2 linked regions of the Homo sapiens genome follow. The protein of the gene in region 1 purifies or fractionates together with the protein of each later gene. This does not show direct contact. Each region holds a gene or a part of one and is shown on either strand. Other genes may lie near its edges.

The links. Proteins that work in one complex are often made in the same cells at the same time.
Region 2: the proteins of FAM216A (region 1) and TTC5 purify together in Homo sapiens (affinity purification with mass spectrometry; one large-scale study listed by BioGRID and IntAct). This does not show direct contact.

Annotation. Positions count from the first base shown.
Region 1 is NC_000012.12:110,471,845-110,475,344, reverse strand, and holds part of FAM216A (protein FAM216A), read right to left. Parts: intron 2,268-3,500; coding exon 2,227-2,267; intron 1-2,226.
Region 2 is NC_000014.9:20,299,452-20,302,951, forward strand, and holds part of TTC5 (tetratricopeptide repeat protein 5), read right to left. Parts: intron 2,515-3,500; coding exon 2,382-2,514; intron 1,368-2,381; coding exon 1,156-1,367; intron 1-1,155. UniProt on the Homo sapiens protein: Cofactor involved in the regulation of various cellular mechanisms such as actin regulation, autophagy, chromatin regulation and DNA repair.

The DNA.
Region 1 (3,500 bases):
GCTTGAACCTGGGAGACCGAGGTTGCAATAAGCCAAGATTACACCACTGCACTCCAGCCTGGGCGACAGAGTGAGACTCCGTCTCAAAAATAATAATAACAGTAATATCTAGAGTCACTGCCAGTAGTTGGCTATCGTGTTTATTTTAAATAATAGAATGAATCCTTAAGTTCAACTATAGAGGAAGACAATCAAGCACTTGCTGAATACTGGCCCTTTTCCCCTCCAATTATAAACAGCAATACACATTGTTCACTGCAGATTAGTGAAGTAAACTAAGTGTATAAAAAGAAAATAAAAACTTTTAATTCCACAATCTAGTAGTAATTTTTTTTAATTAATTTTTTTTTTTGAGATGGAGTTTCACTCTTGTTGCCCAGGCTGGAGTTCAATGGCGCGATCTCGGCTCACCGCAACCTCTGCCTCCCAGGTTCAAGCGATTCTCCTGCCTGGAGTAGCTGGGATTATAGGGATGCACCACCACACCCAGCTGATTTTTTATTTTAGTAGAGACGGGGTTTCTCTATGTTGGTCAGGCTAGTCTCGAATTTCTGACCTCAGGTGATCTGCCCGCCTCAGCCTCCCAAAGTGCTGGGATTACAGGCGTGAGCCACGGCGCCCAGCATTTTTTTTTTTTTTTTTTTTTTTTTTTTGAGACAGAGTCTCGCTCTGTCGCCCAGGCTCAAGTGCAGTGGCATGATCTTAGCTCACTGCAACCTCCGCCTCCTGAGTTGAAGTGATTCTCCTGCCTCAGCCTTCCGAGTAGCTGGGACTACGGACGTGCACCACCACACCTGGCTAATTTTTTTGTATATTTAGCAGAGACGGGGTTTCACCATGTTGGTCAGGCTGGTCTTGAACTCCTGACCTCAGGTGATCCACCTACCTCGGCCTCCCAAAGTACTGGGATTACAGGTGTGAGCCACCGTGCCCGGCCTAGTAGTAATTATTTTAAAACACTTTGACATATTGCCTTTCAGAGTTTTTACTAGGCATATATTTGTTTAGAAATTTTTCTTTTATATAACTAAGTCAATCTAATATACTGATAATTGTTAATATTTCTTTATTTCCCTCCACATCTGGAATATATTACTAATAATTATATTGTTTTGTGTTTCCTTTCTTTTTTACACTGAACTATAATTCAGTAAGAATTTTGGTGAGGAATCTAAATTAATGAACCCAGACTGCAACACATTTTTTAAATGACCATATTATTTATTTATATATGTATATATGCACACATATATGTCTGTATATTTTTTTCCCAGGTAACTGTAATGACTATATATTTACCAAGGAAAAGCAAAGTGAACCCAGGTTTATGTATCACTGAATTTAAATGAAACATTTAAAACCTATTATAACTACTATACTTAAAATATATATACATACACACACACTCCTACAGTCAGTTAATTCCAGCTCCTCTCCCAAGGGAAAAAAAGCAATTAGTGAGAGACCTTTGGGGGATTGTTTTACCTACTCTCTTAACTCCAGCAGAGAAGAGGTGAATACTTTGAAAGCTCTATTCTTTATTTCAAGTGAGAGGAAAACATCAGCACTGAGAAATATTTTGTATTCTTTGAAGCTATTCAATTTAGAATTTTTTTCTTCTATCCATGTATAAACCCCAGGCTGTGCTCTGTGCTTTTCAACCAACGTCAGCTATAAATACAGTTCTTTTAGGATTCACTGCTAATTTTAAAAATGCTTGATGTAAAATATACTGTACCAACAGACAAGAAAAACCTCCCTGATTGCTCTTTGAAATCTTAAAGACTAAGTTCACCAAGGATGCTAATACAATCTATTTTTAACTCTATTGTGGGCTGGGTGTGGTGGCTCATGCCTGTAATCCCAGCACTTTGGGAGGCGGAGGCAGGTGGATCACCTGAGGTCAGGAGCTCCAGACCAGCCTGGCCAACATGGCGAAACCCTGTCTCTACTAAAAATAGAAAAATTAGCCAGGCATGGTGGCACGCATCTGTAGTCCCAGCTACTCAGGAGGCTGAGGCAGGAGAATCGCTTGAACCCAGGAGGCAGAGGTTGCAGTGAGCCCAGATCGCACTACTGCACTCCAGCCCAGGCAACAGAGTGAGACTCCATCTCAAAAAAAAAAGAAAAAAGAAAAAAACTCTATTGTGTAAGTAGTTACAGACAAATAGGCTTCTCAGAACCATGTTACTTATAAGTATTATCTGCTTTATATGCACTACTCACCAGAACCTTTGGAATTCTGGTAACAAGAGTATCCAGCTGATCTGTTGAAAAAATAAAGCATATAAATAATATGTAATAATTACAATGTTACAAGCACTGAACAACATATTTCAATTTTTTTTTTTTTTTTTTTTTTTTTTTTTGAGACAGGGTCTCACTTTGTCACCCAGGCTGGAGTGCAGTGGCATGATCTCAGGTCATTGGAACCTCTGCCTCCCAGTTTCAAGTGATTCTCCCACCTCAGCCTCCCAGGTAGCTGGGACTAGCGCTGCTACACCCAGCTAATTTTTGTATTTTTAGTACAGACGGTTTCACCATATTGGCCAGGCTGGTCTCAAACTCCTGACCTCAGATGATCTGCCTGCCTCAGCCTCCCAAAGTGATGGGATTAAAGGTGTGAGCCACTGCACCCAACCAACATATTTCAAATTTTAAAAAAGGATAGTGTTGCATATTATTTTTACTTTTCATGTTTCCATCAGAAATAATGTCTTACAAATTTTTTCCTATAATTCTGGTTAAATCCTAATGGCTCCAAGATTTTTTTCTTTCCTTTTTTAGAGATGGGGTCTCCCTCCTTCACCCAGGCTAGAGTGCAGTGTCGTGATCATAGCCCACCGCAGCCTCAAAATCCTGGGCTCAAACGATCCTCAGCCACCAAGTAGCCAGGACCACCAAAACGCCTGGCTAATTTTTGTACAGATGTGAGCCACCATGCCTATCCTGGGTCTTAATTTTATAGCTTCCTAATCTCATTCCTACAGTGAGCTCAATAAAGTAGTTGGGGCTCCTGGGCTATCCATGTGATTATCTTGCTGTCTTTATTTTTAATGAAGTGATTTGGGTATTGAAAAGACTGTTCTTTTTTTTTTTTCTTTTTTCTTTTTTGAGGTAGAGTCTTGCTCTGTTGCCCAGGCTGGAGTGCAATGGCGTGATCTCCGTTCACTGCAACCTCCGCCTTCCAGGTCCAAGCAATTCTCCCACTTCAGCCTCCCGGTAGCTGGGATTACAGGTGCCCGCCACCACGCCCGGCTAATTTTTCCATCTTTAGTACAGACAAGGTTTCGCCATGTTGGCCAGGCCGGTCTCAAACTCCTGACCTCAACTGATTCGCCCGCCTCAGCCTCCCAAAGTGCTGGGATTACAGGTGTGAGCCACCACGCCATGCCGAAAGACTGTTCTTTGAATAGTAATTAAGGTGTGCTAGAACTAATAAGTTGGTCTGTAATGTTTCTAATTTCGTACAAATTCTTTTTCTTTTCTAAACTTAAGAC
Region 2 (3,500 bases), on another chromosome or scaffold:
CAAATAGGAAGGGCACATACTCAATCTTCCTGATTCTACCTCCCCTTTCCAGATCTATTCTGAACTCAGTCTTCTAAATCTAATTTTTTACCTTTCTAAGTTTTTTGTTTTGTTTTGTTTGAGGTGGAGTCTTGCTCTGTCACCCAGGCTGAAGTGCAATGGCGTGATCTCGGCTCACTGCAACCTTTGCCTCCCGAGTTAAGTCTTTCTCCTGCCTCAGCTTCCCAAGTAGCTGGGACTACAGGTATGCACCACCATGCCCGGCTAATTTTTATATTTTTAGTAGAGACTGAGTTTCACCATGTTGGCCAGGCTGGTCTTGAACTCCTGACCTCAAGTGATCTGCCTGCCTCAGCCTCCCAAAGCGCGGGATTACAGGTGTGAGCCACCACGCCTGGCCGTATTTTTCTTTTTGTGACAGGGTCTCACTCTGATGGAGTGCAGAGGCACGATCTCAGCTCACAGCAACCTCCACCTCCTGGGTTCAAGTGATTCTTGTGCCTTGGCCTCCTGAGTAACTGGGATTACAGGCACATACAACCATGCCCATCTAATTTTTGTATTTTTTGGTAGAGGCAGGGTTTCACCATGTTGGCCAGGCTGGTCTCGAACTCCTGACCTCAAATGATCTCCCCACTTTGGCCTCCCAAAGTGCTGGGATTACAGGCATGAGTCACCACGTCTGGTCCATGTATATATATATATTTTTTTTTTTTTTTTTTTTTTTTGTAGAGACAAGGTCTCACCATGTTGCCTAGGCTGGTCTCAAACTCCTGAGCTCAAGTGATCCTCCTGCCTCGGCCTCTCAAAGTGCTAGGATTACAGGTGTAAGCTACCACACCCAGCCCTAATTTTTTCATCTAAATTCTTGCTGCCATCTGTATCTTCAACCCCCATCCACAGGGATCAGCTTAGCTGCTAGCTTTTCTTCACTTCCTTTCTCCCCCTGAACCTGATCCCATCATCATCTTCCTTTCCCAGGCCCCTGCCTCTATTTTCCTCATTCAGGTCTGCTCTCTGACCTTTCCTCCCTCCTGATTCTGTCCTAGTTCAATTTCAGTTCTACTCTGGTATTCATGTCCTAGGGAAACTCATAGAACCAAAGAAATTCATCCTTCCCATCTCTGCTTTCCAAAGGGATAGGGGGCAGCTCACATGGGTGAGGGCTCCTGAGAAGCAGGTGTGGGCAGCTGCAACATCCCCTTTTTTCCAGTACACCTCACCCAGCTGGTTCCAGGCTTCCACCAGCTCGGGCTCCAGCTTCACAGCCTTTGACAGAAGCTCCTCAGCCTTAGGGCTATAGTCAGGAGTCACATTTAGTGCTTTCCCAGTTAGCATTAGAACTTGTGCCTTGCCCTGGACAGAACCTAAGAGGAAGAAAAAAAGATAAAGTGGGAAAAAAACAAGTTAAAGACCAGGGCACTTTCTCTCAAAAAATAACTACACGTCAGTTTTAGGAATAAAAAGAGTTGGGGAAAATATTTATCAATAAACCATTTATTGAAAGCTCACCATAGGCAGAGTGTATGTTAGCTAATTAGGCAACAAAGAAAGCACTATTTCTAGAGCTTCTGCCATCTGTTTCTTGGGCCCCTATCTACAAGGATCAGCTCGGTTGCTAACTTTCCTAGAGGGGTTTACAATCTAGTGGAGAAGACAAAGCGTAAACATGGAAAATTAAAACCATGAAAAAGAGCATATGGCATTAGCCCAATGAATGGGCTTTAACAAGTGAAGAGAAGATGAGTCAGGACAAATAGTTATCGTTAAAACAAAACAGAGAGAGAGAAGAAAAGACCCTCCAGGTTAGAAAATGATATAAACAAAGACACAGAATCAGAAGTACATGTGGCCATGTTCATGGGAGAATAGACAGTTCAACCTGGATGAAACAGAAAGTTCCTCTACAAGTAATTAGTCAGAGATAAGGTTAGAAAACAGAGTAAAACAATGGACACTTAAATACCAGGTTAAGGGGGTTAGACTTCAGCTAGTCAATAGCAGGAATCTTTAAAGATACCTGAGCAAAAAGGCAGATGAGAGGATAAGGTTAAATGCATGAAGTAATGATTTAGAAAGATAGCCATGGCCATGGTATTATATAAGTGGATTTGAAAGTAAAAGAAATTAGAGGCAGAAAGTCAGATTACTGCAATAGTTCAAGTAAGTATGCTCTTTCATTTCATGCCATTTGCTATAATCAAATTTTAGGAAAAGTGGCTTAGGGAATGAAAGGTTGCACAGGGGCCCTGAGAAGTAGTATTACGTTGTACTACCCTATAGCAGTAACAGATAGGATACCAAAGAGTCAATGAGGAGGGAGCAAAGGTCAATCACATTTCACTGAAGGATGGGGGTTGTACAATCTCTAGGGCTCATACCCACTACTTCTTCCATCTGCTGTAGGGTTTTCTCCATCTCCTTCTGCACATCCTGTTGCTTCCTCCCAGCATCCTCAACACTATGTGTCTCGAAATAGCAGTCTCGAAATGAGTAGAGCTGATCCACGAGTTCCTAAAAAGTATGACAATGGAACCATTAAGTGGAAAGATCACTGGATAGGGAAACTTGAAATTGGCTAGCCATACCAGCTCTTGGTCTAGAAATACCAATTCTCTTTCTCACCTATGAATGGCACAATAGGCAGGTGGACAGGTTTACTAAAATGCCACAAATCATGAGGAAAAGCAGCCAGTACCCCAGGCCAGCTCTCATGGTCCCATGTTGTCCCATGCCAGTGTCTCTATTGTGATGACCATTTTCTCTCCCTGCCTCAGCAGGGCTTCTAATATGACTAAGCACTTCACATACCACAGTCATGAGGAGGGAAACACTGCAACTTAAGATAAACCAAAAGTTAGTAAGATCATTCTATATGGTCCTGGTCCTCAAAGAATAACACTTTGAAATTTACCCTTAAAGTTGGACTTCTCAACTAAAACCATTTTATCCCTGATTTTTCATATGCTGAGATCTGAAAATACAACACAACCTTTGTGAATATAATAAACATGTTAGAGAGTCATTGTTTTCCACCACAAACATACCAATTTGAACTTGGTAACTTTGGTATCTTTGCAGCATTTTGTTCTTTTAAATGCTTATTGTGGTTTTGTTTAGTTTGATTTTTTTGTCAAGTCATCTTCTGGCTGCCTTGGATTTTTTACAAATAAATATTCTCTTTCCTCTTAAATGCCTCTGAGTCTTCCTGTCACACCAGGCAAAGCTTTTCTACTACAGGTCAAGCATCCCTAATGCAAAAATCTGAAATCCTCCAAAATCTGAAACTTTTGAAACGCTGACACCACAAGTAGAAAATTCCACACCTGACACACAGTCAAAATGCGGTCAAAACGTTGTTTCAGGCACAAAATTATTAAAAATATTGTATCAAATTACTTTCAGCCTATGTGTATAAAGTGTAAATGAAACAATTTTTTTTTTTTCTTTTTTAAAAGACAGGGTCACCAGGCGTGGTGGCTCATGCCTGTAATCCTAGC